4 linked regions of the Homo sapiens genome follow. The protein of the gene in region 4 purifies or fractionates together with the protein of the main gene of each other region. This does not show direct contact. Each region holds a gene or a part of one and is shown on either strand. Other genes may lie near its edges.

Region 1 (7,791 bases), on a different chromosome or scaffold from region 4:
CTGAACGTTGTCCACTACTTCAATGCATAATTCCAGGTCCCCATACTCAGTTCGGAGTGACTTCACTTCGGAGGGGCTGAAGGTCAGATAGGAGGCAAATTTGGGGCCTGCATGAATTTTTACCTGGAACAGAGGAAGTCCAGGGGCAACAACATAAAAACAACTGAAATAAGCAAGTTCTAGGATAGAACAGAAAGGTGAGCCTGTAAAACCACAGCCCAAAGTGGCTCCTGTAGCCTCAACAACTGAACTAGTCCTACTTTCCTCCCTCCAGCATGATCTGACTGGCCACTTGCCAGCAATGGGCCCTCAAGACAGTTGGAACAGGGATTGAAGCAGGAAGCCTTGAACGTTAAGGATGTGCAAGGTGGGCCGGGCATGGTGGCTCACGCCTGTAATCCCAGTACTTTGGGAGGCTGAGACGGGTGGATAACTTGAGGTCAGGAGTTCAAAAACCAACCTGGCCAACATGGTGAAACCCCGTCTTTACTAAAAAAATTAGCAGGGCATGGTGGCAGGTGCCTGTAATCTCAGCTACTTGGGAGGTTCAAGCAGGAGGAGAACTGCTTGAACCTGGAAGGCAGAGGTTGCAGTGAGCCAAGATTGTGCCACTGCACTCCAGCCTGGGGCACAGAGCAAGACTCCGTCTCAAAGAAAAAAAAAAGAATAAAAAAGAATGTGCAAGGCGTTTAGTGGGTTATCAACACAAGGGCTTGACTTCTGGCATTTTCCTAAAATGAATACTTGACAATAAAGATCCCAGTTCCTGCATATGGTACCTAGGCACTAGACTCGTGTGGAAAAAGGGAGGTGCCACATATACATTGCTACTCCCTGTACCCTAGCGAAGTCCCAGGTTTGCTTTAGAGGTAAGCAGTACTTGGTCAGGTGCTTTCAGCACCTGAAACTGTGGCTACTCATTTGATTTCCAACTGCGTCAGTCTGGCCCCACCTCTAGGTTCAGCTCAGCCCCAGGCTCTGGCTCTAATCCTGCTGCTGGTTAGAGGAATTTAAGGATTCTGAGGCTGGTCACCGAGGATCCCAATCACAAGCTGGATCCCACTTAAACCTTGTTTTCTGAGACATCCCCAGGACAGGGTTCATGCCTTGATTCTTTGGGATCAAGCTTTTGCCTTGGCTCAAGTTATAAGTGGTGTCTGCCTTATCCTCATGATTCCCGAGGCCCTGCCATTGTTTCTTATCTGGGATCTCACTTCTTCTGTGTTCCTTGGGGACTGGAACCCCATCCCTGTGCAAGTCATCCTTCTAGCTTTACTTTCTGCCATCCAAAAGTGCTGTATGAAGTACACACAGTGACTCATTTTGATTTGGAATTTCAAGGCCATCCTCATTTTAATGACTGAGGATACCACTTGTGTGTTCAAATTAGGTCTGGGGAGGGATTTAGTCCTGGCTAAAGGAGAGCTTTCCTCCTGTCTAATCCAGTTCACTGTGGTGCTTGGCAAACACAGGTGCCCAATCAACAGGCTTCCTTACCAAAGTAAAGTAAGGTCCCCGAACATGAATGACCATGTGATCTAACTTCCTTGTAATCCATGGAGTACAGTTTCATTTTTAAAACAATTCTTTCCAGTTCTCACTGGGACCATGCCACATTTATAAGCTAACTGGAGCCTTCCTTTCCAGTCAAAGGATGGAAGGGAAGAGACATATGTTCAGAGTCAAAGCAACCAAGGCCAACAAGCACCTTCTCTACTGCCATGCTGGTTTATATAACTCTGAAAGTGTACTATGACATCAGAAATTAAAGCTTAAAATGCATCCATGCAGAGAGTTTAACAGATTGTCCATTTTTGCCTTGAGGGCATCTATTATATTTTCTTGCAGGCATGAATTTAGGACACAGCACAACTTTATATTTGAAACTTACTGGCTTTTGGTTTGTTTACAACCTTAACAATATAGTAAAAACATAATCCAGGGAGACATTCTACAAATTACTGAATCCCAAATATCACTGCATTAAGTACACTAATATTGGTAACCAAAGACACTGGGGGGAGGCAGTGAATGTACATAAGTTTTTGGTTTGAAACGTTTCTGCACCATCTTTTCAAATCAAATCCAAAAAATAATATATGCTTGGGAACACCTTGCATATATAAGGTTGCCAGAAACAGTTCAGTCAGCATAGTGCCATGTGGTCTGTCTTACCTTTGAACCCTCTTTAGCACACAACACATTCCACTTTGTAATAAAGCTATTTGTGTATTGGTTTGGTTCGACTACTAGAGGGCAGGGGTTGTGTTTTACTCACACTTTACTTAGCATGGAACTTTGTACACAGAAGATATTAAAAAATATTGTTTCTTAAACTGCCTTATATGGTATGGCTGTGCCTGGTCTAATTCCACAGGCTTCTAAGACAGGAAGTAATGTACTAGTCCTATGGAACTCTTACCTGTTCCACTCTCAGCATATCAATGATCTGGTCAAATAATGGTGTCCTGAGCAGATCCCGGTGGATTAACAAAGTCTCCAAAGCATTACAGGCAGCTGGATATTCACATTTAGAGTCTCTGACTGAAAGAAGATGAGCAAAGAATTGTTTCCATTGACATGATCCAGAGCTGCAGAGGATGTAATATTTCTCCGTTGTGAAAGAGAAGACCCCATCCAGCTCACCTAGCCTGGTGACCTTATCAACACTGGCCTCGGAATCCACATACATGTGACAGATCCCTTCGCTGTGCCCCATCACTGGAATCCCCTTAGCAGCTTTCTGGATGTCTCTGACCAGCTGGGAAGAGCCACGTGGAATGATCAGATCTATCATTTTGTCTAGGCGGCAAAGATCTTCAACTTCTTCTCTGGTATTCACCTTTAGAAGGAAAGAAGAAAAAGATAAAGATGACATCTGACCACACAAAATATAAAAACAGCAGCTTCCCTTTTACAGATAAACATCTGTACACTCTGAGAACTAAGTGAGACACTGTGAAAACTTATTCTAAAAACAAAATTAAGTTCCCGATCATGGGAATCAAAAAGTTGTCCAGCAAATGCTTATCAAACACTATATACTCGGTGCTGTGCTCCACATCACATATCACGCAGGACACTGCATGCCGTCAAAGAGCTCAGCATCAAGTAGGGAAGGCAGCACTAGGGTACTGCTAGCCATAATACAGGGCAGACAATTTTTAAAATGCCAGAAGCAGCACAAAGGGGTATCTATGGAGGTTAAATGCAGTACACTACTCCAGGCCATGAAGATCACAAAAGGGAGTGGCTTCTCTGTTGGTTTTCTATTCACAGCATTGAGGAAATGTTGGGTTGGTCTTGCTAGGGAGTCATGGTTCTCATGACTTCTGATGGCAACTTCTACCCTGGGATGTGGATTAGAATGACTTAAAGAGCCTGTGAGAGGATACTGAGATTATGGGCATTTTGTTTTCTCTTGATTTTTAATTTTTCTCCACATGGTCATATTACTTTTATAACAAATATATATGTGTGCCAGAATGTTCACAGCAACTTTATTCCACATAGCCCAAAACTGGAAACAATCTAAATATTCATCAAGAGAAGAAAAGATGAACTGTAGTATATGCAGGTAAATGGAACACTACCCAGCAATTAAATGAGAAAACTACTGCTAGATGCAACAATGGGAATGAATGCCACAGACATAACGAACAAATGACAGGCAACATAAACGTGTGTTTTGTTTGATCTCATTTATATAAATTTCAAGAATAGGCAAAAGGCAGGGCGTGGTGGCACATTCCCAGCACTTTGGGAGGCTGAGGCAGGCAGATTGCCTGAGCTCAGGAGTTTGAGAGCAGCCTGGGCAACATGGTGAAACCCTGTCTCTACAAAAAACAAAAAATCCACAAAAGTTAGTCAGGTCTGGAGGCACACACCTGTAGTCCCAACTACTAGGAAAGCTGAGGTGGGTGGACTGCTTGAGCCTAGGAGGCTGAGGCTGCAGTGAGCCGAGAGCCAAGATTGTGCCACTGAATTCCAGTCTGGGCAACAGAGCAAGACCATGTCTCAAAAAAAAAAAAAAAGGCAAAAGTAATTTAATGTGACAGAAGTCAAAAAAGTAGTTTGTGGGGAAGGGGGCTACATATTGACTGGGAAGGGCACAAGGGGGCCCTCCAGGATGTTGGACTGTTCTGTATCTTGATACGGCTGGTGGTTATACATGTGTGTGTGTGAACAGTCGCAGAGTGGTTCACAGGATCTGTATACTTTACTGTACGTATGTTACACATCAATAGGAAGAAAAGGAGGGAGGGCACCTGTGTAAGCTAGGAAGTGGTGGGGCTGGGATTTGAATCCCTAAAATCTGCGCTCTTTCCAACCACTATGTGGGCATAAGAAAAAAACCAGATTCTGGTCACTGAGTGTGTAATGAGCAGGTTTGTAGACATCCTCCCAGTAGCCAACAGAATCCTGGAATGTTGGAGCAAATGAGCCAAAGAAAAAAAAGGATCTGGAGTCAGCCTAGGTCCAAATCTAAACTCTATCACACACCATGTGACTCTTGGGGAATTACTTTACCTCTGAATCTGTTTTTTCCCAATGTAGAAAATGAGTCTAATAATTAATGATATTTTCCTTATGGGACTGCTGTGACGATCAAATGAGTTAACGGATAAAATGAGCCTTGCACATAGTAGGTACTCAACAAGTAGTAGCTATTATTATCAAACTTCATTTGACAGTTGAGGAGAATGAGAAATGGTCAGTTAAAGTGATGACCTTAATAATAATAGTGATAACAGCATGATCTCATACTCAACACACCGCATGACAGTTTATGACAAACTTTTGTAAAGTTTCTCATCTGACTTACCCTAGATCACTCTGCCAATGACAGGAACCTAGGCCTCACACTCTAGTTCTGGTACTCCTGCTGCCTTGTGACCCAAAGAATGAAGGTCTAATTGACATTCTTGTAAATAAATAGTGCCAAGACGCAGCTGTAAGGGAGGGGCCTTCCTAAGCCACTGAGGACCCATCTGGCTCTGCAGAATGGCCTAAAGTCTGAAGGCTCACAGGCCTGCTGGAGTGTCAAGTCTGCTTGTAGTAGTGTCTTGGCTCTGTGTGGCCTAAGTTTTGCTTTAAATTCCCAAACACCTGATCTGGCCCCTCTGGGCCTGACTTGGTGCATTCCCAGGGACCTACCAGTTGCACGGCCTCCTTGACTCCATGGATTGAGAGAGCCTCCTGGGTCAGGAGGTGGAGAATCCGGTTGCTGTGTGCAGCCTCCTTCCCTCCTTTGAGTAACAAGCCATTGCCACTTGCGATAGCCAAAGCTGCCACCTGCAGATCAAAGGGAGAGCAGTGGATCAAAGGAGACAAACAGTAATAGCAACAGTGATGTTAGCATTCACAAGCACTCCTTCTGTGCTAAGCACTGTGTTCATCATTTTAGAAGGCCTATGCTGTTTCATCTTCACAACACTGCAGTGAATTAAGTGCCTGTTTTATCCCCTACTTTACAGATAAGGGCACTGAAGCCCAGAGAGGCTGATGACTCCCCGAAGTCACACAGCTTATAAATAACAGGGATGGGAGCCAGACTGAGGTGGTTTGACTCCAGAACAAACCACTGGATTTTAGCAACTAAACTATATGGCTTCCTTAGCACCATTAGCAAAGAGAACTGAGTTGGCCAGGTATGGTGGCTCACGCCTGTAATCTCAGCAATTTGGGAGGCTGAGGTGGGTGGATCACCTGAGGTCAGGAGTTCGATACCAGCCTGACCAACATGGTGAAACCCCATCTCTACTATAAATACAAAAATTAGCCGGGCATGGTGGCAGGTGCCTGTAGTCCCAGCTACCCAGGAGGCTGAGGCAAGAGACTTTCTTGAGCCTGGGAGGCGGAGGCTGCAGTCAGCCGAGATTGCACCACTTCACTCCAGCCTGGGCAACAGAGTGAGACTCCGTCGCAAACAAACAAATAAAGCAAAGAGAACTGAGTTAAGTGGCCAGGGCCACATGGCACCCCCCACCGTGGAGAACAGGGTCTTCAGCCACCTCTGTAAGGAAGCACTTGCTTCATCTGATCAGGCTGAGGCTGGGCAGCTCCTCTGGCCACATCCTACTCTGGCCTTGGAATTGTTCTGAGAGCTCTAAGTGCTTGGTGCTAAGAACCTGGAGAAGACCAGAGCTCCTGCCAGCCCCTGGGCAGCTGTGGTAGAGACTGCTGAGAACAGAGTCTTTTTCCCACATGCCTGTCTGGGGAGGAAAACGTAAACCATCCAGGAGGAGGGCTAGTTGCCTTGTTAGAGCAAAGAGTGAGTGACACTGACCTGATCATCCTACCTCTTACAAAAGTTAAGTAAACTTTCTCCAGACATAAACACACAGAATATTGCACACAATTTTTAGGATTCATGGATTCTGTGAAACCATCCAGGGCTGAGTCCAGATGAGGAGCCTTAGCTGTAGTTAGCTAATGAGGTATCAGCTCCTTGTGAGGTATCAGCTGGTATGGATGAGTGGTAGCAAAGAAATTTCACGGATACAGTCCACAGAGAGACTTAGGCCCATTTCTACTAGCAGAGGTGAGTCTGGCAGTCATCACTGGGGCATTTCTGCAAGACAGGTATGTGGCCAGAGAGGTAGTGTGCCAGCATCAGCCAGGGACTGAGGATAGGCCTCAGTGGTATGGGAGTCCCTTGGTGAACACACTGGTTTTAGGGGATGTCAGAGAGTACCCTTCACAGAGCATTCCAGATTCCACAGTCAACTATGTCTTATAGTAAAGAGGTGCTAGTTTTTTGTTTTTACAGTAGAATTTCCCTTTGAGACTTTGGGGCTAGTGCAAAGGAAGAGCTGGTATCCTATAGGACAGTCCAGTGGGGGAAATGCTCCCAGAATTCTGGGAGGCAGTTTAGGGTAATAAAGTGGGGCCACTCTCTAATGACACCTTGTATTTCCCAGCATGGCTGCTTGGCAAGAACTTTAACGCATGCTTTCTCAACCAGAGGCTGTGATATGTCAACTTGCTTAAAGAGGGTTGCATTCTTTTCTCTTTTTTGAGATGGTATCTCGCCCTGTTGCAAGGCTGGAATGCAGTGGCACGATCTCGACTCACTGCAACCTCTGCCTCCTGGGTTCAAGTGATTCCCCTGTCTCAGCCTCCTGAGTAGCTGGGACTACAGGTCCCACCATGCCAACTAATTTTGTATTTTTTAGTAGAGACAAGGTTTCACCATGTTGGCCAGGATGGTCTCAATCTCTTGACCTCGTGATTCACCTGCCTGGGCCTCCCAAAGTGCTGGGATTACAGGTGTCAGCCACTGTGCCTGGCCGACAGTTGCATTCTAATTTCCATTAACTACTGAAAGTTCTTTTTCCTAACAGATGTACTTATAGGAAGCCATCAGTGATACTGACAATAAAGGGGTCCTTTTCACATGGGCCAAGCCAGTTATTCATGAATGACAGCAGCAGGCTAACAGAGACTTGTGGTCAGAGAACAAAGTGAACCACAGGCTAAGATATTTGGAAATTTGCTCCTGCACTGTGGTATGGTAGGTTGATTTGGGTTCCAGTCCCAGTTGCACCTTACAGGTGTGACAGGAATATTACCTTCTATGAGGTTCAGTTTCTCCAGGTCTAAAATGGACATATGAACAACTACTTTAGGATACTGGAGGAATCAAGAACGTATATTACCTCAAGAACAACCTGAGAATAAAGTCTCAAAAATTATCTTTTTTTTGGTTAAAAGACCTTCACACACACACAATTGTCTTTGGGAAACCTATCTCCAGTATTGAAAATATATTCTTCAGGATACAAAATC
Region 2 (7,791 bases), on a different chromosome or scaffold from region 4:
AAAAATTAAAAATTAAAATTTAATTAAAAATATAATATTGAGGCATTTTAAAGTTTTTTAAATTAGCAAATCTGGTATCTTAAAAATAACATAACATTATAAGTGTCAAGATATAAACTTGGTTCAGTAGCTGATGATAGTTGTATTTTGATCCAATTAAAACCAATGAATCTTTACATGTTTTGAAGAATAACACTTATTTGTAGCATTTTAGCAGGCTGAATTTTCTAAATTTCATATACTCCAAGCACATTCATACAGTGTAGAGAACATTCTGATCACTCTGGCAATCATACTGCAGAGTAAGTACACTGAGAAGACAGAAGGGCCATGGGCACACTGAACACAGTTGCTGTGTTTATAAAAAGCACGTTAGAATAAACAGTGGGAAAACACTTTTGAAGCCAAAAGTAGCTTTTAGTTTCTTAACCAAATCTTTAGAACTTGAATAAATTCCAGGAAGTGCTATTTTCAAGTCTTGTTGCTTAGCACAGTCATAGCAATAAAGAAAGCAAACAAGATGTCTGTTGGGTCTAAGAGAACTTTAAGAGTACACTTAACATGTTGTGATGTTTTCTCTACTTGGATGAAACCAGAAAGCGACTGATTTATTTTTTGTATTCTAACTATAGTGAATTTAAAAACCTGCCATCATATGCAGGTGCAGTTCTACTAAGAACCTTAGAACTGCACACGTGCTAATTTGCATCTGAAGAAATTGATCTAGGAATAGACAAAGACATTTATTCTAAATAAAATATAAAATAAAAAATAAAATAGAACACTCCCATCAACCTTGCTAAGAAAGTTATCACATCTTCTTAAAAGTTTTTCTAAAGCTATTCAAGTACAGATTGAATGCCAAGATTTATATTTTAGTCTTCTTCTCATGAAAATTGAAACCTAGACAATGTGTGTAAATACCTTGCGCACTGGCTTGAAGATGTCTATAATTTCCCCATTGGAAAAGTTCATCACAAATCCTTGTACAGGTTCTTGGTCCCCAAAATGAGGCTTCCCATTCACTGCAAAGAGCAAGCCTGCAACAGCAAATCCAGTTAACCTTTCTTTAAAATATGGGTAAGAATGGACTTCTAATATATCCATGTATATTATGCAAAGAATAAATTTAGGGTCAACCTGGTCCCTACAATTGGCAACAAAAGTAGAATATAAAATACTTAGTGTCTCCTCCTGAGTAACCAGATCAGTGGCAAACTGGTTAGAGGACTAACCTCCTTGTGACAGGAAAATCGGGAACTGAAATGTGTGGTCCACTTGGAAAACCAGTAGAAATCAGAAATACATAGATATTGATATATAGATATAATACACATATATAGCTATTACAGGCATCCTAAATAGGAATTGGGGAAAGTCAGGTTATTTAGGCCAATAATTTTGGAGTCTCAGATCTTTTAAAAAATAAGTAATATTTGCCATAGCTACATGGAGAATCCAAGAGAAAATCAAAGAAAATAAGTGAAGTTACAGTCTATATAGAACAATCTGATTTTAAACAACTAGAATTTGAAAATGTGAGATGTATATTTCAGATTATCAAAGACATATTTTCCTTAATTAAAAAAGACCATCTTTTTAATTTTCACACCATGAATACTTTTTGTAGTAAAATTATATTTCTTAACACAATACTGTTTATTCAGAACAATGAAAATGGTGATGTTTACGTTAAATAAACAATTCAGATGATTGAACCACTACATTTTCAAAGAATTAAAACATAATAAATTATACACAATGCTAAGCCACCATTGAAGATATTTTCATCATTCTTGAAGGATTATAGTTTTCTAGGATGTACTATAAAAAACACTATAAACATCAATTACTATTGTGCAAAATTATAGAGAAAATTATCTTTTGCTTAGATTCTGTTCTTAACCATATTCCTTCTCAACTGATAATTTTCTTCTTATATTTAATTTATTTTTGTTTATTATGAACTTGATCACCCTCTTAATTAAGTAAAGGGTCCTGACAAATTTTTCTTTAAATGTGCGGCAAACCAACCTAAAGAATGATAGTTGTGAGAACCTCTTATTACTTTTTCTTTATTCCTTGAGGAAGCCAAATTTGCTCTCTATCAATCACCTGAGTCCCTTGATTTTATGTCCTAAATAATTTGGGGGGCTGCTTGGTCCAGATAGTAGCCATATGCAACTTATAAGAAACATAAATATTACAGTAATACCTATAAATAGTCAATGCTGCTTTAATACAGGTATAGATGTTTTTATTAAAATATGTTGTGCCCTTTAATTGTGAATTTTTCAAAAATTCCTCGTTATTGATCTCATTTCACTTCATTGTGAAAAGAGCATATTTTAAATGTTTTCACCATAAAACATAAGTATGTGAGGTGATGGGTTTGCTAATTAGCCTTACTTAGTCATTCCACATTGTAAACATACATCAAAATATCACATTGTACTCTACAAATATATACAATTACTATGTCAATTACAATTTAAAAAAATTGTAATTGTATGTAAATTTCAGAAATTAAATATATTTTCATTATTTAAAGAAAATATGGTAAGTTGTTTTGTAATATAAGTTATATGTATTTTATTAGTCTGAATTATTTTTCAGATTTTCTTAGAGTCAAGAAAATCTATTTTGAAAATGAGAAAAAAGTTCAAGATTTTATTGATTATTTATCCTGGTATTTAGGCATAAGCCACACTTATTTTTACATATTTTATCTTTAAAAAAATTGGTCACTACTGTTTTTAAAAATGTGAAATGAGTATTTTGAATACTGATTTTATCAGACATATACCATTTGTCGATGTGTGAAGACAAATATTAATTATTTAATACTGGAGCAGATGATCATAATTAAGATAAAATGAAAATCAATGTTTGGGAACATTTTTAACCCCTTACAAACAGGTGTTAAATCCTTTGAGTTCTTCATTGTTTCTGTACAATGAATAGTGGTACCTTAATCAAAACTGAGTTAGAACACACTAACAGTTGTAAGATACTTTTAAGATGTGAAATATATAGCAAAGAAAATTTATAAAAAGAGCACATTAAGATAACACAATTTTTAAGGATAGAGTACAGTAGGACAGAAGACAACAAACATATTAAGATGAAATACCTGGTATATATGAAATTGCAAATACATTTCTTCCAAATGATGAATGCTTAATCTCTCTCACAAATTCTTTGGTGTCAGTTTTAAAACACTGGATCCGACCATTTTCCCGGTCTGCCACACATAATTGGCCCAAAAGAGGCACAAGAGCCAAGCTGTGAGGAACAGTGAACTGGCCTGGCAGAGGACTGCTCCCTGAAGACTCTGCAGAACAAAAAAAAGCCTTAGATACACAATGTTAAAAATCACCCAAAGTTTGACTCTCTAGTATGTTTCTAAATTCATGATAGTAAACCATTAAATGCCTGGAGCCAGGGGAAAGATAAGGTAAAGCAGTTTATAAGATTATTTTATAATGTCTTTTATCCACAAATACATTACAGATTTTCTCCCTATTTGGATAGTTGTTTGGTGGATACATTATTTTCCTTACAAGACGTGTGTGTGTGTGTGTGTGTGTGTGTGTGTATGTATATGTGTGTGTGTGTGTGTGTGAGAGACAAGCTAACTGGATGCATACAATGACCCAGGTTACAATGACCCTGTAGGGGACAATTACAGCTTAAAGAATGTGAGTGTTGGCCAATATTTAGTTCCCAGTGATACTGGCTAAGAATTACAACTGGAGATTAAGAGTCTTATTGGGTACCTTCTCCCCACTGTGTGATGAACTTTCCACTTGGTGAAAACTGCACAATCCTGCTGTTGCAGTAACCATCTGATACATAAATGGCTCCAGTGCCTGGATCCACAGCCACATCAGTGGGTTGACAGAAGTGATTCTGGTCACTGCCTGGTTGCATGCTCCTTCCCAGGATTAATACAGGGCCTTCTTTATTGTTTGGATCCAGTTTGAACACCTTTTTAAAAAGGAACAAAAGCCTTACCTACTTTTCATGGTTATTAGTGACTTACACCCACATGACTAAGACCACTTTCACAAGCAATTGGAGTAGAAGCTCCCAGAGACTTATTTAAAAGAAGGTATTAATACTTGTTAGAACTGAACGGGATCCTAGAAATCATCTGGTCTGGTTCCTTCATTTGATAATAAAGCCTATGAAGATTAAATGATTTGCTCAAGGTCACGCGGTTAATTAGTAGTGAATGGAGACTAGTACATGGATACCCAGTTCTGTCCACCCTGATGTTTCCTTTTTGTCTTTCCTTAGATAATACTACAATGCACTCCAGATAATACATGAGCAATAAATGTTTACTGAGATGATGTTTTCCAAGTTATTTGCCACCTATTCATGAAAAGCATATTACGCTTGATATAACTTCTTTTAAAAATAACACAAATTTCACTTTTTATATATAAATATACATTTACTAGAGGCCTAGCCTCAATTTATAGAAGATTAAGGTAGTTTAAGAAAAAAACATAAAAAAATAAGTAAAAAAATAGAAATAAGACTTAGGCCCAGACACGATGGCCACACCTGTTAATTACAGCACTTTGCAAGGCTGAGGTAGGTGGATTGCATGAGTCCAGGAATTCAAGACCAGCCTGGGCAACCTGGCAAAATCCCATCTCTACAAAAAATTTAAAAAAATTAGCCAAGTATGCTGGTGTGTGACTGTGGTCCCAGCTACTTGGGAGGCTAAGGTGGGAGGATCACCTCAGCCTGGGAGGTGGAGGCTGTAGTGAGCCAAGATCGTGCCACTGCATTCCAGCCTGAGGGACAGAGTGAGACCCTGTCTCAAACAACAACAACAACAGCAACAACAACAACAACAACAACAACAAGTTAGGAACAGAGGAAATAAAGGCAAATACAGACAGTTAAGAAAATGGTTGGGAGGGCCCATGTAGTTATTTGAGTGAAGCTTCATATCTGGTCCAAGGGACAAATGTGACTTCATCATTTACATACTAGCTTTCCCTAGCATTGAGTTCTAAGAGAAATATTTCAGATGTGGATTGTTATGGACTGAATGTTTGTGCCTCAAATCCAAATTCACATGTTGAAATCCTAACCCCCAATATGATGGTAATATGAAGCAGGGCCTTTGGGAGGTAATCAGGACAAAAGGGTAGAGTTCTCATGAATGGGATTAGTGCCATAAGAAGAGATAACAGAGATTACTGTCACTCTTATCTCTCTGGCCATGCAAGGATACTATGAGAAATTAGCAGCCTATAACCCAGAAGAGGGCCCTCACTAGAACTCAACCATGCTGGCACCCTGTTCTTGAATTCCAGACTCCAGACCTGTGAGAAACAAATTTCTGTTGTGTATAAGCCACCCAGACTATAGTACTTTGTTATAACATGCTGAACTAAGACATGGCTGCTCTATTTTCTTGTTATAACTTACTGGGTGACAGAAGAAAAAACAAACAAACAAAAAACCCATACAACTCCAGAGCTCTTCAAAAGCATAACTCTGTTAGCTTCTAATTTGAATATTACCAAAAGGAAGACTACCTGATGGAGAGCCACGTCTGTGACCCAATAATTCCCATCTTTATCTATACTCAAGCCATGTGGCAAGTAAAACCTGCAAAATAAAAATATTTGTGTTAATTACACATTTACTCTCAAGGCATATGTGACAGAAATTTTTCTAATTAATCTGTAAAGACAATGCAAAGTTATAAATTGATAAATGTATACTTGCATTATTATAGAAAAGAACAAAATGAATAGTTAATAAAAACTGTTATAATGAGATCTCCTTGTGACAAACCTTAGGTAGTATTTAATAGTATTAAAATTTATAAATTAAGCCTACATATAAATTACAAATGTTTATTATAAAGTATGGTATATTAGAGAAAACAGTATCAGTTTAAAAACAGGTTCTGAGGTCATAAGTGTTAACATCTTACAAATATGTATAAAACTGACTTAAGAAACATAAATGGATTGATATAGTTTGCGGTTAAAACATGTTGCAAGGAAATGTAATGTGTTAATATAAACTATTAGACATATAACTCAAAGGCTTTAAAGAGTGCCTATTAAAGACAGTAAAACCCACAGCACATAACCTCCAGCCAACATGGGCTGTGAATATCTAAGCAAAGTGAAATAGTGAGCTAGATAAACATTAGAGAAGGTTAATCTGGCAAATCAATCTTAATGATCTAGGTAAGGAACCTGGACTGAGCTAACAGACACATGGACAATACATTGAGGTGGTTTGGTCCAATGATATCCGACAATCCAATAGCTCTGTTAGCTTCTAATCTTAGTGTAGTGTTGACAATACAGATTTTTTTTCATAAGCCATAACTGTAACACTCTGATTTTGACTAATTAGCTGAACTAGATCCCTGTTTTGACAACTGAATGTGAGGATTATGATTTGCTTTCAAACAGATACTCCACCGATGGCCAAGTTGATTTAGCAGTAGTTTTTCTGCCTTCCCCTTAATTCCTTTCTGGAATGAGGGTGCTTCTGGTGAATAAATAGAGCACCAATGAAACAGGTTCAAACATTTCACCCCTGACACACAATCTTGAGAATGCTGTTAAAAAATTCTAAGCATCATTATTATCATCTCCCAAGCAGCTGCACTCAAAACGGTGGCTATCCACCTTGCGAAGAAGCTAGCTTTCCCTGTGCTTAAGCAGATGGAGAAGGGTATAATTCCTGAAGCTGTCAAGTTACAATGGTTCAGGAGATCTGTAAGCAAGTGCCTCCCTCACTTCTTTCAATGACCATAAATATCAGTCAACTTTTTTTTTTTTTTGGCTGCCAAGTGCCATCTCGAAATAAGACTAAATAATGAGCAGTTTTCAAAGCCAAATTACATACGCATGATAAGGAATGCTAAAAATGACATTTGTTTAGTATTCACTTTGAGACGGAAAAAGAGAAGCTCTTTTACTTAATGGTGATTACTTGATGAGTTTGGTTGTCCTGAAGAATTTTTCTGCTGAAGAATTTTTTTGGATCATTAGATCTGGCTGAGCAGCAACTCACTTAATCAAGTATGTAAGATATATATTACATATGTAATATGTAACAAGCTTGACTACATATTAAAATCACCTGGGAACTTAAGATTATTAGCCCCACTCTATACAGAATCTAAATCTAATTTTTTAAAGGACAAATTGACAAATTTTAATTGTATACATTTATGGGGTACAATGTGATGTTATGACATATGTATACAATGTGGAGAGATTAAATCAAGCTAATGAACATATCCATCACCTCAAATACCTAACATTTTTGAGGTGAGAACATTCCAAATATACTCATTTAGCAATTATGAAATAGGCAAGGACCTGAACAGACAGTTCTCAGAAGAAAACATACAAATGGCAAACAGATAAGTGAATCTAAATATTTTGAAGCTTCCCAGATGATTCTAATATTCAGTCAAGATTTAGAAACACCTATGTAGAAAATGAAAGATGGGATGGCCCAGTTAGTTTTCTGCTTTCTCAAGTGCAGTTATACAAAACACTCGAATTTCAAGACTCTATGATACACTTTATACTCAATATATGTAGTACAAGTCTTAACAACATAAGTCATTTAACTCACAGATTTTTTCCACTGGACTGGAGTACTGCAGCATTATTTGGATCTATGACAAGAATAGTGTCTTCTTCAATTGGTCCGAGTCCTATTTGCTGGTAAACAAACTTGCTGTCAAACGAGCTAAACAAAAAGCATTAAATAGGACATGAAACA
Region 3 (7,791 bases), on a different chromosome or scaffold from region 4:
ATTAATATTACAGTGAACATAATCAGGAAGCTTGCAGAAGTATGTAGCATCTCTGAATTATTGAATTTGAACAAAGGTTTCCAATAGAGGTCACACTCTTTTTGCTCTCAGACACCATTAGTGCAGATTCAGATACAATCATTTTTACATTTGCAGGCTCAGGTACGTTCAACAGAAGGTCACCGAGAAGTATGGGCTGGTTATTTTAGCATGACAGAATGCAGGCTTGGAATTTCTCCTTGACATGGCAGAAGAAATAGGAATGATGCCCAGAGGACTGGAATAAATTCAAAATGCTTGGTTTTCCAAGTTCTATTTTAATAAACTTCGGAAAATTAACCTTTCCCTGAAAGACACGTCCTTGGTTTGGCACACAGGGCTTTCCAAAACAGTGAGAAACGAACTGGCCATGTGCTGCACTCACACACATAGTCATTCTTTTTGCTTGGGGTTGACTAGGTTCATAGGGCCAGATTTTCCTCAGTGTCCTCTTGTAGCAGTGCCGCAGTGAGCTTTGTGATTCTGACAAAGGGTGCCATTATATCCACTTTGAAATGCATTACAAATATTCTGCATGCTGGTGCAACTGGCATAAAATCTGGAAAGCCACCGCCCCCCCCCCCTCCCCCGCCGCAAGAAGTGCCCAATTTCTTCTCTTTTCACACTTCAACATTTCAAATGACTACACACAGAATTACCAGAAACAGTAGTAAATTCCTGGCATTCGAAGTTCCCATGATCCCAGCTGGCATATAAAAAAGACTCTCTCCTTTTTTTCCCCTGAAAATAATGTACTCTCCAGGCACTGTTGAAATGCTTCAAATCAGGCAAATGAGAGATTTGTTTTGACCAATCAATGAAAAGACTTCCCCCTCTTCTCCGTGAGGGCCCCAAGACTGGGTTACGCCATACACAAGATGTCTGTTTCTAAAGAGACTTCACTGATTTCCCTAAAATGATTTTAACATTTCTTTGCAAGTGAAGCTCTGATGTTGCCTAATGTTATTTTCAGAGTAGCCTGCTGCAGGATGCCTAATTTGAGTTTTTATTTCCCTGCTATAAATGTGACAATCTGAGTATGTTTTCATTCAAACCACCTTGAACATGGTGGCTGAGGCTTCACCACAAATGTCCAGAAAATAGCACTGGAGTCTGTCTGAGTCCTGAGATGGTCAAATCTCAGAGAAATCCAGCTCTGGGCCCGGAAAGGAAAGTGCCATCTCTTAACCTTTCCTCAGGAAAATTATTTTATTGATTTTTTTGCCTTATTTTCATGCCTTTTAAGTCAAAGGAAGATAAATGGAAAGTCTCTTTTTGGTCATTCACTAATTCTCTAGGGCAAGTCACATAATTCTCTAGGACAAAGGCCTCCATGATGTTAGGATGAATGCCATAGAAGAGGTATGGGGGGTGATGGCTGCATTTTAGACTAATCATAGGCATATCCTTTGCTTTCTCTATGTCAGGGGTCTCAGCATTGCTTGCAGAATATGTGCCCCAGTGTCTGGATGTCTGAATGACCTAAATTTGAGCTGGTCATCAATGAGTATTTATTAGCACATTGCTCTTAAGAAGTTAATAACTCGGCCAGGCACGGTGGCTCAGGCCTGTAATTCCAGCACTTTGGGAGGCGGAGGTGGGCGGATCACCTGAGGTCGGGAGCTGGGGACCAGCCTGACCAGCATGGAGAAACCCCGTCTCTACTAAAAATACAAAATTAGCCGGCTGTAGTGGCATATGCCTGTAATCCCAGCTACTTGGGCGGCTGAGGCAGGAGAATCGCTTGAACCTGGGAGGCGGAGGTTGCAGTGAGACGAGATCACGCCATTGCACTCCAGCCTGGGTAACAAGAGCAAAACCCCATCTCAAACAACAACTAAAAGAAGTTAATAACTCTGCCTAATAGCACATTTAGATTTTTATTTTTTTTTCCATGAATCATCTCCATTCACTCACTCTTAGGTTTATACTTTCCCCTAAAATTCCCCCATGAAACTTCTAAAATTAGTTTCATGCTATGTATTTGTTTGATAGGCACAGAAGGTTTACAGCTGCATGGTCAGTAAGCGATACTTTGGTCATGAATGTATATATACATATATATTTGCAATGCTGAGAAAAAGAGAGACTGCTGTTAAAAATCAAAATTCTCGTGGAATGAAGAGAAGCCACTGAGATTTTTTTCAACCAGAATGAAAATAAATAAAATATCACTATCTGCCAAATCAAAAGCTTTTATGTTATTCCATTATGAAAGACATTTATTGAGTAATTTGCAAATGTTAATAAGCCTTAGAAACTAGGAAAAGCTGAGTACTAGTTTATGACTTACATTTAATTTTTTTTCCAGCCTTTTATCCTGGGTTTAAAGTAACACAGAATCTTTCAGTGTCAACAGTGAGCTGGAAATTAACCTATAATAACAAGTTTTGAGCATTTTGCTCCTCCAGGCAAAATTTGGTCACTCATAATAAATATATTATGAAGAAGCCAATGATGATGTATTCCATAAACTTGTTATGAAAAACTGACTCCAGAAATTATGTGACTTTACTTGAATAATTACCATTTTACTTCTCTACAATAATCATTGTGAGAGCAGTGGGCATTGGATGGTTGAAAAGTTATTCCAGACAATAATTAGGCAGATGTATTACAATTTAAGTTGAGGCTAGATCAACTTAATCAAAACCTTAAGAAGTAATACCATGTTATGATATGACAATGGTAGAACAGGAAATTATAGACACATTTGAGGCTGGAGTTTTCTGATTTCCCTGATTGTCTTATGTCTGGGATGGTCTAATAAATGACATAACCACCACACACACCTAAAGTGCAAATGCTTTTTTGATACACTGGTGTTTCTGAATACCTCAAAACAGTGATATTAATAATTCAAAACCCAATAGAAATATTGGGTCGAGAAATCAAACTTCAACTGTTGCATCTGGTCAGTAAGACTGCAGTGAACTAGAAAGTATTCTTAGGTCAGGGAGAATTTTGAGTAACTTTTTTTCTCACAGATAAAATTAACAGGTCTACAGCACAGACATGCAGTGATATATTATGTTTCAGACACATTCTTCAGGCAAACAGTTTCTAGTTCCCATTTTAAGTAGAATAGAAAATTGGAGTTGAAAATTGATAGAGTATTGTTGATCCTATCTACTTGTAAAGTCTGGTTTAGGGATGTTATTGTATTATAATGATCGGTTACATGCCTGGACTCTCACTACTGTATATCACAAGTTACTAGCACAGTCACTTGGTTCCAGTAGGTGTTCAATAAATATTTCAGTGAACTGAACAGTTAAATAAATGAACAAATAGGGAGATGAATCAAAGTGCTCTGTAAAATGTAAAATGCTTCACAAACATAAGGTAATAGGAGTATATAAAAGGTAACACCACAGACCTCGCATTATCTGCCCAAAAAACCTTATAAGGACAAAAATGTTGTAATAGTTTGAAGAGCAAATAAAAATTGCAATTATATATGTGGTCAGAAAATCAGCTATATAGATCATTCATTTTCAAATATATTTGGGAAGAAATAAAACAAAGGCAGAAAAATTTTAAATGGCCAAAATAAATTGTATTGCTAACTTAGATGGCCACAGATGGGGGCAGGGGTGGAGAGAGGAGAAATTGAAAACACCACAAAGACCCCGCAATGGCTAGAACTTGAAATCTCTGGATATTGCAACAATAGCAGCCTCCTTAAGTCAGCAAAAAGATAAAGATTGATCCAATGTTCTATATTACAGAACAGAGCAGATTGTCAATATAGCAAATAAAGTTACCGTTGAGTGGACTGCGCTGTCTAAGCTGCTTGGTTGGCCTTAAGTGCCGACAATTAAGAGATGAAGGCAATGAGAACTGAAACAAACATTTAAGTTCAAGACCCAGTTTACTGACACTGGGACTATTACTATATCTCTTTGGGCCTCAGTTTACTTATCTGTAACATTAAGAGGTTGGATTACATGATGTCTCACGATTCTTTTTTTTTATTTAGAGATGGGGTTTTGCTCTGTTGCCCAGGCTGGAGTGCAGTGGCATGATCATAGCTCACAGCAGCCTCTAACTCATGGGCTCAAGCAACTCTTACACTTCAGCCTCCAAAGTAGCTGGGACTACAGGCATGAGAAACCACACTTGGCTAACACACACACACACACACACACACACACACACATAATTGCTATCATCTCTATCAAATATACATATATATTTGATATATATGTATATTTGTGTGTGTGTGTGTGTGTGTGTATATATATATATATATATGTATATTTGATAGAGATGGGTCTCACTATGTTGTCCAGGCTGGATCTGCCATGACTCTGGCATATGACGCTGATAACAAAAGTGGGGTTGGAGGTCGTGAAGTAAAAGCAGCAGTAACTTGGAAAATACCTAAAGAAATACAAACCAAAAGAACATTTCACAGGAGGAAGAAATTAGAACCAGATAATCTAGTTTTCAATTAGTCTTATTTAAATATTAATTTCCTATCATAAACGAAAGCATCTTGAAGCGATCTGTGGATCCTGGCAAAACCTTTCTCAAGTGGGCAATAGACACTAGGGACGTGATCAAATTTATACTCCCTCATGAAGATGTAACATAAGAATCTGTTGCGAAAAACTGATAAATGATACTAACCTTAGAATATGTATCTGGATATTAGCATAATTTAAAATAATTTTATTCCCTTTATATAGTCTGCATGTGCAAAGGTTTACATTAAGTTCCAAATAGTTTTATATTTTAATGCCATAGCTCCTTAGTGTTACAGTGATAAAATAAATATGAAATTATTTATGTTTGAGATAGTGCCTTCTAAATGGAAGCCTCCTTTTGCTGTTAAGTGTAAAATAGGAAATCATAAGAAACTAGAGAAGCTAAGTGGCTCTATGCAATAAAGAACTGAGCCAGTTGAAGGATGTTCATAGGCAATGTTGTGAAAGAGTGGATAAATACATGGGATGGATGTCATGTGGGACAAATACTAAAGGAAATATTCAGATGGGCAGAAAAGAAACTGAAGCAATTTTGCTTTGTGTTTTGAATGCATTCTCTTTTTCTCAAGATACGTGATGAACTGATTACCTTTGAACGCTTTTTGCACTGATGAACTATTCTTCCTTTGAATGCAAATTTGTGCTGGTACTCGACCAAAAGTCGTACTTTATATGGGTTACATTAACATAAGGTTTTTAAGAGTCTGCACATCTGTACATTTAATCAGGTTGCATAATAATCTTGCAAGAAAGACAGGACAAAAATTGTTTTTCTTTTCCAAAATTGCAAATTGAGACTCAAGGAGGTTGAAGTGATTTTCCCAAGATAACACAGTGGGGATTTAAAGCTGTGTCAGCTTGTATTTTTTTCATTACTCCATAGGGCCTCTCTAAAATCAAAAATGCTTGGATATGCCCAAGAGCTACCAAATCTTGTTTCTTTCCTCTTCTTCCCTTTTCTTCAAGGACAACGAATTCAAATGAAACACAGCATTGTCCATTAAAATTTTCTTCAACCACGGAAGTGTTTCTTGTTATCCAATATGGTAGCCACAAGCCAGGCGTGGCTATTGAGCCTTTGAAATGTGGCTGGTGTGACTGAAGAATTACATTTTTAATTTAATTTTAATTAATTTTAATTTCAAAAGCCACGTTGGCTAGTGGATATAATATTGGACAGCACAACTCTAGAAGCTACATATAAGAGATTGGCAAATGCCCTTGATACCTCAAACTAAAATAGTAATTGGGGGTCAATTGCACTTTTAGTTTTCTAGGTGTTAGTATATCTTGAAGTCCAAACCCTTCACACACAAGCCACCATTTATGGTCAGTGCCATCTCTTGGGCTTAAGCCATTTATGCCTGAGGTTGCAATTTTTTGAATTTTTGCAACCAGACCTTGGTGATGACCTTGAGCAGTAGGCTCTAAATAACTCCCATAAGCTTAGCGTTCCAATAATGGAACACTAGACATAAATGGGTCAAGATATTTTTCTTGAGTTTCAGTATCTTTACCTAGTCACTGATTATTATTTTTACAAATAATTAAGCTGAAATAACTAAATTCCTCTGTAGCACCATTTATCTGATTTATCCAGAAGTTTGCATCTCTTTGTTATCTTTTTTTGTTATTCTATTATGTTCATAGTATATTAAGTAATGTACAGTTGCACCTTCTCTAATACATAATTATGTAAAGTCCAAAGCATTGATGACCATTTTGAATTTTCAGAAACTGTATGTTTTCTCACATGGGAACAAGAACAAACCAGAAATATAAAATAGAATGAGAGTTTCATGAAAGAAAAGGATTTAGCCCACATTTCCCCTTACCACTAAAGAATTCACACACCACACACTTCTCACTACCTTTAACTCTTAGTTCTGTTAAGAAGTTTTCCCACACTCCAGTTTCAAGAAGTTTTCTCTATTATTTGTTGCTTTGGTTCACTGAAGAATTCAGTGTTTATGTTTTTTTACAGAATTATCAATTGTTTTGAATCAAAATAGAAAATTGATTCAAAATTGTTTTGAATCAATTGTTTTGAATCAAAATAGAACGCTGAAGGGTATAAGAATAACATTACTACTTGAGAATTAAGTAGTACTTAAGGGACACAAACTAAGAATACACATGCAAGATTTATATAACTGTCAAACAGTTGCTATTGGAAGCCACAGCTACCACAAAAGGTAGTGAAAGAAGCATCATTTTATCCTAAAAGGAAGTCGTCTATGTGTTCCTTATGCATTTGTAGAATACCAGTTGCACCAGTAATATTGGCATGTCATTTGGTTATTGCTGTCTCACCAAACCTGCTCCACAAGAATAAGTGGGGATACTTCACATAAACCATACATAGCTGCTGCAAAGAGATTGTCATCACAATCCTTCAATCACCTTGCTTTTCAAAATTTTTTTTAATAGTTAACTAAGTTAGGAAAAAGTTACCATCTTCATCAAATACTTAAAATTGTAAAGCAAAATATATGGAATAGAAAATGGCATTCGTTCACGTCAGACACTTGTGATGATAAAGTATGGTACTCTGTGAGTGGACTGATGACCAAGGCAGATGTGTACAGATGCTAAACTGTTGGGAAAATGCTGCTTATGAGACATCTCTGCTTCTTGAGACCTGAATCTGCAAATGTTGAGCACTGTACCTTACAAAAGCCAACAGTTTCTTGGCACAGAGTGTAAAAGTTTCATGGGTTAGAATGTTGGTGAAATTGTACACTCAGTACCTGAATTTAAACTTTAGGAGCTCAGTATGTATATTAACCACTTTCCTTCTCAAGGGATGCCATTCCTTTCTTCATTCATGAGGAATTTTCAAAATCAGGATTGTGATTCCAAGGCAATCGATATCTCCATTTAAGGAGCTTTCTGCATCCACTTTATTTAGCCAGAGAGGGAAGGGGTTGACATAAACGAAAAAGTGGATCAAATAGTCAAGAACATGATGGGCGCGGCAATGAACTGAACCACTTTTGCTAAGTGACAGAAAAATATTCTAATATTAAGGATTATTTTACAACTCTATGGAAGTAATGCAGTGATGCATCTTGCATCTGTTTTGCCTTGATGACAAAACGCACTCTTAGAGTCACAAGATCCTGCCTTGTGTTAGTTATAAACAAAAATATATTTATATATATATATTTATGTAACTACTATGTGCTTTAAAGAAAATTACTGTATGATTCAGCAGGGTTTTTTCATTCTTTCTATCGCCATGCTGACGTGAATGGCT
Region 4 (7,791 bases):
CTTTGCTAACTCCAGGCTCCTAGGAAGTCGGACCGGAAAGCTGGAGTATTGTTATGATTTGGTGAAAATGTTTATAATCCACTTGTACAGAGAGAAACCTGGTCTTATTATTTTAAATTTTAGCTTGGTGAACATATGAAAAAAAGCCAAAAGAAGCTTACCTTAAAAGCTAAAGAAACTGGATGTGACAGAGGCCAAAATAAACATGAATTATGCCACCTACAGCCCAAACAACCAGATCTTATGAATGAAGGCCAGAAAAAGGGGGAGAGAGGTGGACTCAAATGTGAATTTTCTTTCTATTGGTCCTCCTCTCAGCTGGGTGAGTCAGTCCCACGCAAGAATGGCGACGGTCATCCTCCTGTCAAGAGGGGGCGGTTCTTTCACACACTACCTTGGAGAGGAATGTGGCTTCTACATCCTCACTTCTTTTAGCTTCAGTTCCAGATTTCTGACCTTCTTCCTGTGATACTGTGGAGCATGCCTAGTTGACTGGTAGCTGAGTGGAACAAAACTTGTAGATGTAATTCAAAGAAAACTGATTGAAAGGGTCAGTTGCATTGGTTAAAAAAATCCAAGAGCCTCTTATTACTCATCTGTTCCTTAGCCCCACCTTAGACAGGCTCAGAATTTATTCCTCTACTAAGTCTTCAGTCACTCTCTGCATGTATTCAAGCTCTCAGCAGTCATACATCAAACAATAGTAGTTGTGTGGTACATAATAATTATAAGCTATTTTGTAAGTGGCTCTTGTTCTAGGAAGGCACCTCAGTAAGAACAATGATCAAAAAGAATAAAAAGCCTGGGTGCCAGACCATCCCAGGAATGCACTAAGTGAGCCAGCAAGGAAGCAGCAGCTTGTCTGTTCCAGGAAATGCTGGCTGGGTGGGAGTGGGTTCTCACCTTCTTCAGTGTTTGGCTTTAGATGATATACTCTGCCAATTTAGCCTTAGAAATAACAAGAGAATATCACTGTCTGAAACATTAGGGTATTCTAAAAGAATACAGATAAGAAAATTAGGATACTCTTTTAGAATACCTATTATTTTAAACTTAAGCTTGGTGAACATCTGAAAAAAAGCCAAAAGAAGCTTACCTTAAAAGCTCAAGAAACTGGATGTGACAGAGGCCAAAATAAATATCACTTATGCCAACCACAGCCCAAACAACCAGATCTTATGAAGGAAGGCCTCTCATCTAGATATTAGGATATCTAAAAGAATATCCTAAATTTTTAATCCATATTCTTTTAGAATATCCTAATTTTTCTTCCTAATTCTAAAAGAATATCCTAATTTTTTAGACCATCCTAAGTTTTTGGAAAGCCCTCTAAGTGAGTTTTCTCAAAGCCAAAAGTCTTGCCATAAAAAAAAAAAGAAAAAAAAAAAACCTCTAACAGCCCTGAAAAACCAGCCAGCACACCAGGAATCCACCTTCTCCCCACGGGCTTCTTCTGCATGTGTGTCCCCCAACTCTCTCATAGTCAATGGAGAGAAGGGAACACTGCCTTCAAAATCAACCACTTTGCTCCTAGGAGTAGGGTCCTGTCAGCAGAGGGGACACCAACCCAGTCCCAGTGTTGGGCCACTCAGTGGAACCAGGAAGTATGACCCAACAGACCACAGAGACTTTGTTCCCTGCCTCCGTTGAGTCAGCTTCGGACCCACGGTTCACTATCATCAATAACGTGAAATATCACATAATGGCTGGGACTATGCAGTCAGACCCCCACAAAGGGGCTGGGATCCAATCTAGGAAGAGAAGCTCCTTGCTCGATCTTAAAACCCAAGACATTATATTTGAGGGGCACAGCAAACAGTGCAAGAAAATCTGCTGATGGAAGATGATTTTCATCAGTCCTCAGAACCAGAAACTATAAAACTGGGAAGGAAAGTTTAAATAAAGAATTTATTTCCAAATTCAGCAGAACTTCTTTCTTTCTTAAAAAGCCAACTGGGTTAAAAAAATCCAAGTTTGTGTTTTTTGGTGGTGCAATAATTATAAATGTTGCCAGTCAATGCCAACCAGTGTCTGATTGGCTTCCTGTGCATGTCCAATTTCCTCTGTGACACTGTGTTGGTGCCAGAGCTTCTGAATCTTCTTGAATCGCTCTTTGCATAAATGTAAAGGATTTCCCCGTCTAGAAAGAGAAGACACATGTCACTCAGAATGTGTTCTGTTTATTCCTCTATTATAACCCAACCCTTCCTGATTTAGGCAAGGTTACAAGTTATTGGTTTTAGACTCCCTGCAACATTTCTGTCTGGCAGGTGACTGTGGCTATTAACAAAAACATCAGCTCTGACCCTTTGCCAAGAGCAGGTAAAAGGGAATAAGTGCTGAAATGAGGAAGGAAAGGTACACAAACCAGACTTACCCAGAGTGAGGTGAGGGAATAGAGGTTGCGGGGGATAAGGAGGGTCTGGGTTGAGAGGCTAAAACTACCAATTCATTGCCCATTTTGTTGGTAACGTGTAAAAAGGGAAGAGGGCAGAGGAGAACACAAAAGAAGAATTATAGGAGTAAAAATATTCCTCACAGATTTTACTAAGAGTGCAAAGAAAAAAGAAAAGAAAAGAAAAGAAAAACATTCCTCAGATGCAATCTTTCAGCCACAGTCTCAGTGAAGCAATCAAATGTGAGTAACTTCCAGGTCTAATTTAAACACAAGTGCAAGCTTTGGTGGGTTCCTGCCTGGGACCAGTGCCCTGAGCCAGGCACCTCTGCTCCTGTTTCTGAGCACAGCCATCCTCTCACTCACTAATCAGACTCTCCTCCTCCTAACAGCCCACGCTGAGAACAGTGGGAAGCACCAGCACTGGGTGGCATATGGGCATAGCCTCGCAGTCCAGCGCCTGGGGCAGCTCATCTACTTACCTTGCTTGGGTTTCTAGGCCTTTAACATCTGCTACTTAAGGCTGGACAGGCATATCTATGGCGGTTAAAACTTATACCTCCTTTAGACAAAAGAGATGGTCTGAAAGAAGTTCTTTAATAGTGCTTGGGGGAATTGTTAGCTTACAATATACTAAAGCTACCAGAGTAGAAGTAACTTAGCCTCAAATATTGTTATATTGTTCTTTATGTTTTAAATCTTTGTCCCCCAGATTTTAATGTAATAAGCACATTTGTTAGCAATTAAGATTTTCTCAAACACTGGGCTTCCTCTATACAAGGCCATACAAGTCAGAGTGGGCCATCCCTGGAGTGCTCTGAGCTGGGATGCTATATGGCAATTCAAACAGTTCTTTGGAGTGATAAATGGAATAAAGTTGCACTCTGTCCTATTCTCTTCCCTTACCTATCCTGATGTTCCTCATGGCATTCTGAAGGCTGGGAAAAGAACACCAAACCAGGCTGACAGGGCACCCTCCTTGGAAGACTCCACAGATAACACAGCCACCTCTTCCAGAACCACCTCAGCCCTCCACCCTCAGGACGTCACCACATACGGAAGGGCGCTGCAGGCCCTGAGTTAGCTAACTCAGGATGGGTTCTTACCTGAGTCCCTGGTCGGTCTCCCCATAGTCATCAAGGTAAGGAGGAGAATAAAAACAGCCTTTGGTTTTGCCAGCTAAAAATAGCACCTGACATTCCCGTACTCTGTAGAGAGATCAGTCATACGTTACACATTTACACATTAGTAACCAACATTTGTATTCAGTTCCAAATAGAATGAAGTCTTATAGTACTGATATTTAAACCACTATTAGGAGGAAGTTATCCATTAAAAAATTGTGCACAAACTAGGAAATAGGTTGAATCGAGTCAAATTTGTGTCCCCTGATCCCTTTGAGACATTTGCCTTTTTCTGGCATTAATAGTACAGCACAATTAAACAGACATTTATTGAGGACCTAATACGTATAAGAAATTATCAAGGTACTGGGGGGATGACTAAGCTATGGATACAACCTATGCTCCAGAGGAGCCCACACTCATGTCATGCCTCTGCTTCAAACCCTGAAATGGCTTACACCTTGCCCAGAGATGTCACCAGCACACAGCAGGCCCCTGGATTCTCTCACCTGTGCACAACACTCCAGTGACACGCGCCTCCTTGCCTTGAGCAGACAGGCACATTTCTACCCCAGGAACTGTGCAGAATGTTCTGAGTAGAATGTTCTCCCACTTCTTTAGGTCTTTACTCAGAAGTCATGTTCTTAGGAAGCCTTCCCTGATCTACTAAAATTAAATCTCAAATTTAGCTCCATAGCTGCCATTTCATATTCCCCTTCCCTGCTTTATTTTTTCTCCTTAGCCTATATCACTATCTAAATTCTTGTCAGTCTTGCTTGTCCTCTCTCTCATACAAAACAAGCTCCATCCATAAGGGCAGAGATCTTTGCACTGTGGACTACTGCATCCTCAATGCCTGGTACATAGTAGTCACTAATCACAAGCTGGCATGTAGAGTTGTGATAATATGTATAAGTGGAGGTAAAATCCAAAAGCCATGAGGACATAACAGAAAGAGTAATTCTGACTGGATTTGTTCAGAAAATCAGAGAAGTTTCACATTAGTGGGAGACATGGAGAAAGTAGAACAGAACTGTCACCTATGGTTGAGGGAAGAGGAGTGGGAATGGTAACAATAAAAGAACCAACACAGAGTTGGCATGGACCAGATGTGAGATGTGAGGCGACAAGGAGCTCCACGTTTCTGGAATGAATCACACGGAACAGTAGTCTCAAAATTCCTGGCAATATAGTAGTTTCCTGTGACACCCTAACAGTCAGATACTGAGGCAGATCCAAAGCTAAAAAGCCCCTGCAGGTCCTTACCTCAGGAAGATGCCCACTCCAGAGCCACAGGAGTAGGTGTGAGCTGTGCAGGCTCCTACATCCTCCCCTTCCAGTTCAGTCTGGCAGCAGTAACTCTGGGAGCACAGCAGAGATCCGCACACAAGGCACAGAGTTGGGGCTCTGCTCTTATCACCACCTGATTTCGGGCACCTCCAAGGGATAAAAAACCCACAAGTCATTGATCTAAAGAGTGGCTAAAGAGCTAGTGATGAAAAAACCAGCCCAGAAAAGAATTCTGCAATATCAAGTAAAGCCAAAGAAGTGTATATCCTACAGTCTATGCAAGTTTATTCCTAGAATCTGGAATAGGAAACATCTTGCACATATATACAAAGACCATGTACTGGAAACACTCAAAAGAATCAGTAACTGGAGAAAAAAAAATAAATAAAATCATCAATAGGAGAAAAAGATAAACGGTACCACTGCCATATAATAAAATACTATGGAGCAATGAAAAATCAATAAAGTTATAAACGTCAATACAGATAAATCTTAGAAACAATGCTGAATGAATGCAAAATTGGCTGGGTGCAGTGGCTCACGCCTGTAATCCCAGCACTTTGGGAGGCAAAGGTGGGTGGATCAACTGAGGTCAGGAGTTTGAGACCAGCCTGACCAATATGGTGAAACCCCGTCTCTACTAAAAATACAAAAATTAGCCAGGCATGGTGGTGTGCACCTGTAGTCCCAGCTACTTTGGAGGCTGAGACTGGAGAATCACTTGAACCTGGGAGGCGGAGGTTGCTGTGAGCCAAGATCACACCACTGCACTCCAGCCTGGGCAACAGAGTGAGACCCTGTCTCAATAAATAAATAAATAAATAAATAAATAAAATAAAATACAACATACAGCTCTCCCTCTCCCTCTCTTCTCTCCCTCTCCCCTTTGCACAGTCTCCCTCTGATGCCGAGCCGAGGCTGGACTGTACTGCCGCCATCTTGGCTCACTGCAACCTCCCTGCCTGATTCTCCTGTCTCAGCCTGCCCAGTGCCTGGGATTGCAGGCGCGCGCCGCCACGCCTGACTGGTTTTTGTATTTTTTGGTGGAGACGGGGTTTCGCCGTGTTGGCCGGGCTGGTCTCCAGCTCCTGACGGCGAGTGATCTGCCAGCCTCGGCCTCCCGAGGTGCCAGGATTGCAGAGGGAGTCTTGCTCACTCAGTGCTCAATGTTGCCCAGGCTGGAGTGCAGTGGCGCGATCTCGGCTCGCTACAACCTCCACCTCCCAGCCGCCTGCCTTGGCCTCCCAAAGTGCGGAGATTGCAGCCTCTGCCCGGCCGCCACCCCGTCTAGGAAGTGACGAGCGTCTCTGCCCGGCCGCCCAGTCTGAGAAGTGAGGAGCCCCTCTTCCTGGCCGTCATCCCGTCTAGGAAGTGAGGAGCGTCTCTGCCCGGCCGCCCATCGTCTGGGATGTGGGGAGCGCCTCTGCCCCGCCGCCCCGTCTGGGATGTGAGGAGCGCCTCTGCCCGGCCGCGACCCTGTCTGGGAGGTGAGGAGTGTCTCCGACCGGCTGCCCCGTCTGAGAAGTGAGGAGCCCCTCCGCCCGGCAGCCGCCCCGTCTGGGAAGTGAGGAGCGTCTCCGCCCAGCAGCCGCCCAGTCCGGGAGGTGGGGGGCAGCCCCTACCCGGCCAGCTGCCCCGTCCGGGAGGTGGGGGGCAGCTCCCACCCGGCCAGCCGCCCCGTCCGGGAGGTGGGGGGCGCCTCTGCCCGGCTGCCCCGTCTGGGAAGTGAGGAGCCTCTCTACCTGGCCGCCACCCCATCTGGGAGGTGCAACCAACAGCTCATTGACAACAGGCCGTGATGACGATGGCGGTTTTGTCGAATAGAAAAGGGGGAAATGTGGGGAAAAGAAAGAGAGATCAGATTGTTACTGTGTCTGTGTAGAAAGAAGTAGACATAGGAGACTCCATTTTGTTCTGTACTAAGAAAAATTCTTCTGCCTTGGGATGCTGTTAATCTATAACCTTACCCCCAACCCCGTGCTCTCTGAAACATGTGCTGTGTCCACTAAGGGTTAAATGGATTAAGGGCGGTGCAAGATGTGCTTTGTTAAACAGATGCTTGAAGGCAGCATGCTCGTTAAGAGTCATCACCACTCCCTAATCTCAAGTACCCAGGGACACAAACACTGCGGAAGGCCGCAGGGACCTCTGCCTAGGAAAACCAGAGACCTTTGTTCACATCTTTATCTGCTGACCTTCCCTCCACTATTGTCCTATGACCCTGCCAAATCCCCCCCTCCGAGAAACACCCAAGAATGATCAATAAATACTAATTAAAAAAAAAACATACAAAATAACAATACATGCTGCTCAAGAATAGAAACTTATATAGTTAATGTATAGGAATGGAATGCTTAATATTCCATTTAGAATAGTAGGTATCTTCAGAGGGAGGAGAAAGAGGCAACAGAGAAGAGACAGCTGGGGAGCTTCAACTGTCTAGGTAATGTTTAAGCTCTTACATTATTATATTCTTCTTTTTTTTTTTGAGACAAGGTCTCGCTGTCACCCAGGCTAGAGTGCAGTGGCACGATCATGACTAACTGCAGCCTCCATCTCCTGGGCTCGAGTGATACTCCCACCTCAGCCTCCCCTATTATATTATTCTTTATGCTGCTTGTATGTTAAATATTTGATACTATATTAAAAATTACTGCCGGGTGTAGTGGCTCATGCCTGTAATCCCAGCACTTTGGGAGGCTGAGGTGATACTAAAAATACAAAAAAAAAATTAGCTGGGCGTTGTGGTGCATGCCTGTAATCCCAGCTACTCAGGAGGCTGAGGTACAAGAATCACTAGCATCTGGGAGGCGGAGGTTGCAGCGAGCCAAGGTTGCACCACTGCACTCCATCCTGGGCAACAGAGCGAGACTCGTCTCAAAAAAAAAAAAAAATTACTAAGGGCTGTTATTACTTTAAGTGCAATTATTAAACATTCATGAATCAAATTTGCTTCTCCTACTCCCATTCCATGTCTTATTC

What was found.
Region 1: the proteins of UBR2 (region 4) and ALDH18A1 purify together in Homo sapiens (affinity purification with mass spectrometry; 2 studies listed by BioGRID and IntAct, with this or other methods). This does not show direct contact.
Region 2: the proteins of UBR2 (region 4) and PAM purify together in Homo sapiens (affinity purification with mass spectrometry; 4 studies listed by BioGRID and IntAct, with this or other methods). This does not show direct contact.
Region 3: the proteins of UBR2 (region 4) and PLXDC2 purify together in Homo sapiens (affinity purification with mass spectrometry; 4 studies listed by BioGRID and IntAct, with this or other methods). This does not show direct contact.

Annotation. Positions count from the first base shown.
Region 1 is NC_000010.11:95,611,320-95,619,110, forward strand, and holds part of ALDH18A1 (delta-1-pyrroline-5-carboxylate synthase), read right to left. Parts: intron 5,296-7,791; coding exon 5,158-5,295; intron 2,843-5,157; coding exon 2,647-2,842; intron 2,545-2,646; coding exon 2,423-2,544; intron 124-2,422; coding exon 1-123. UniProt on the Homo sapiens protein: Bifunctional enzyme that converts glutamate to glutamate 5-semialdehyde, an intermediate in the biosynthesis of proline, ornithine and arginine.
Region 2 is NC_000005.10:103,003,000-103,010,790, reverse strand, and holds part of PAM (peptidyl-glycine alpha-amidating monooxygenase isoform e preproprotein), read right to left. Parts: intron 7,759-7,791; coding exon 7,642-7,758; intron 5,638-7,641; coding exon 5,565-5,637; intron 3,991-5,564; coding exon 3,780-3,990; intron 3,335-3,779; coding exon 3,134-3,334; intron 1,041-3,133; coding exon 925-1,040; intron 1-924. UniProt on the Homo sapiens protein: Bifunctional enzyme that catalyzes amidation of the C-terminus of proteins. Alpha-amidation is present at the C-terminus of many endocrine hormones and neuropeptides and is required for their activity.
Region 3 is NC_000010.11:20,280,818-20,288,608, reverse strand, and holds part of PLXDC2 (plexin domain-containing protein 2 isoform 1 precursor), read right to left. Parts: 3' UTR 1-7,791. UniProt on the Homo sapiens protein: May play a role in tumor angiogenesis.
Region 4 is NC_000006.12:42,685,381-42,693,171, reverse strand, and holds part of UBR2 (E3 ubiquitin-protein ligase UBR2), read right to left. Parts: intron 4,957-7,791; coding exon 4,786-4,956; intron 4,186-4,785; coding exon of another isoform or gene 4,164-4,185; exon of another isoform or gene 3,623-4,163; intron 3,604-3,622; coding exon 3,502-3,603; intron 2,141-3,501; coding exon 1,999-2,140; 3' UTR 1-1,998. UniProt on the Homo sapiens protein: E3 ubiquitin-protein ligase which is a component of the N-end rule pathway.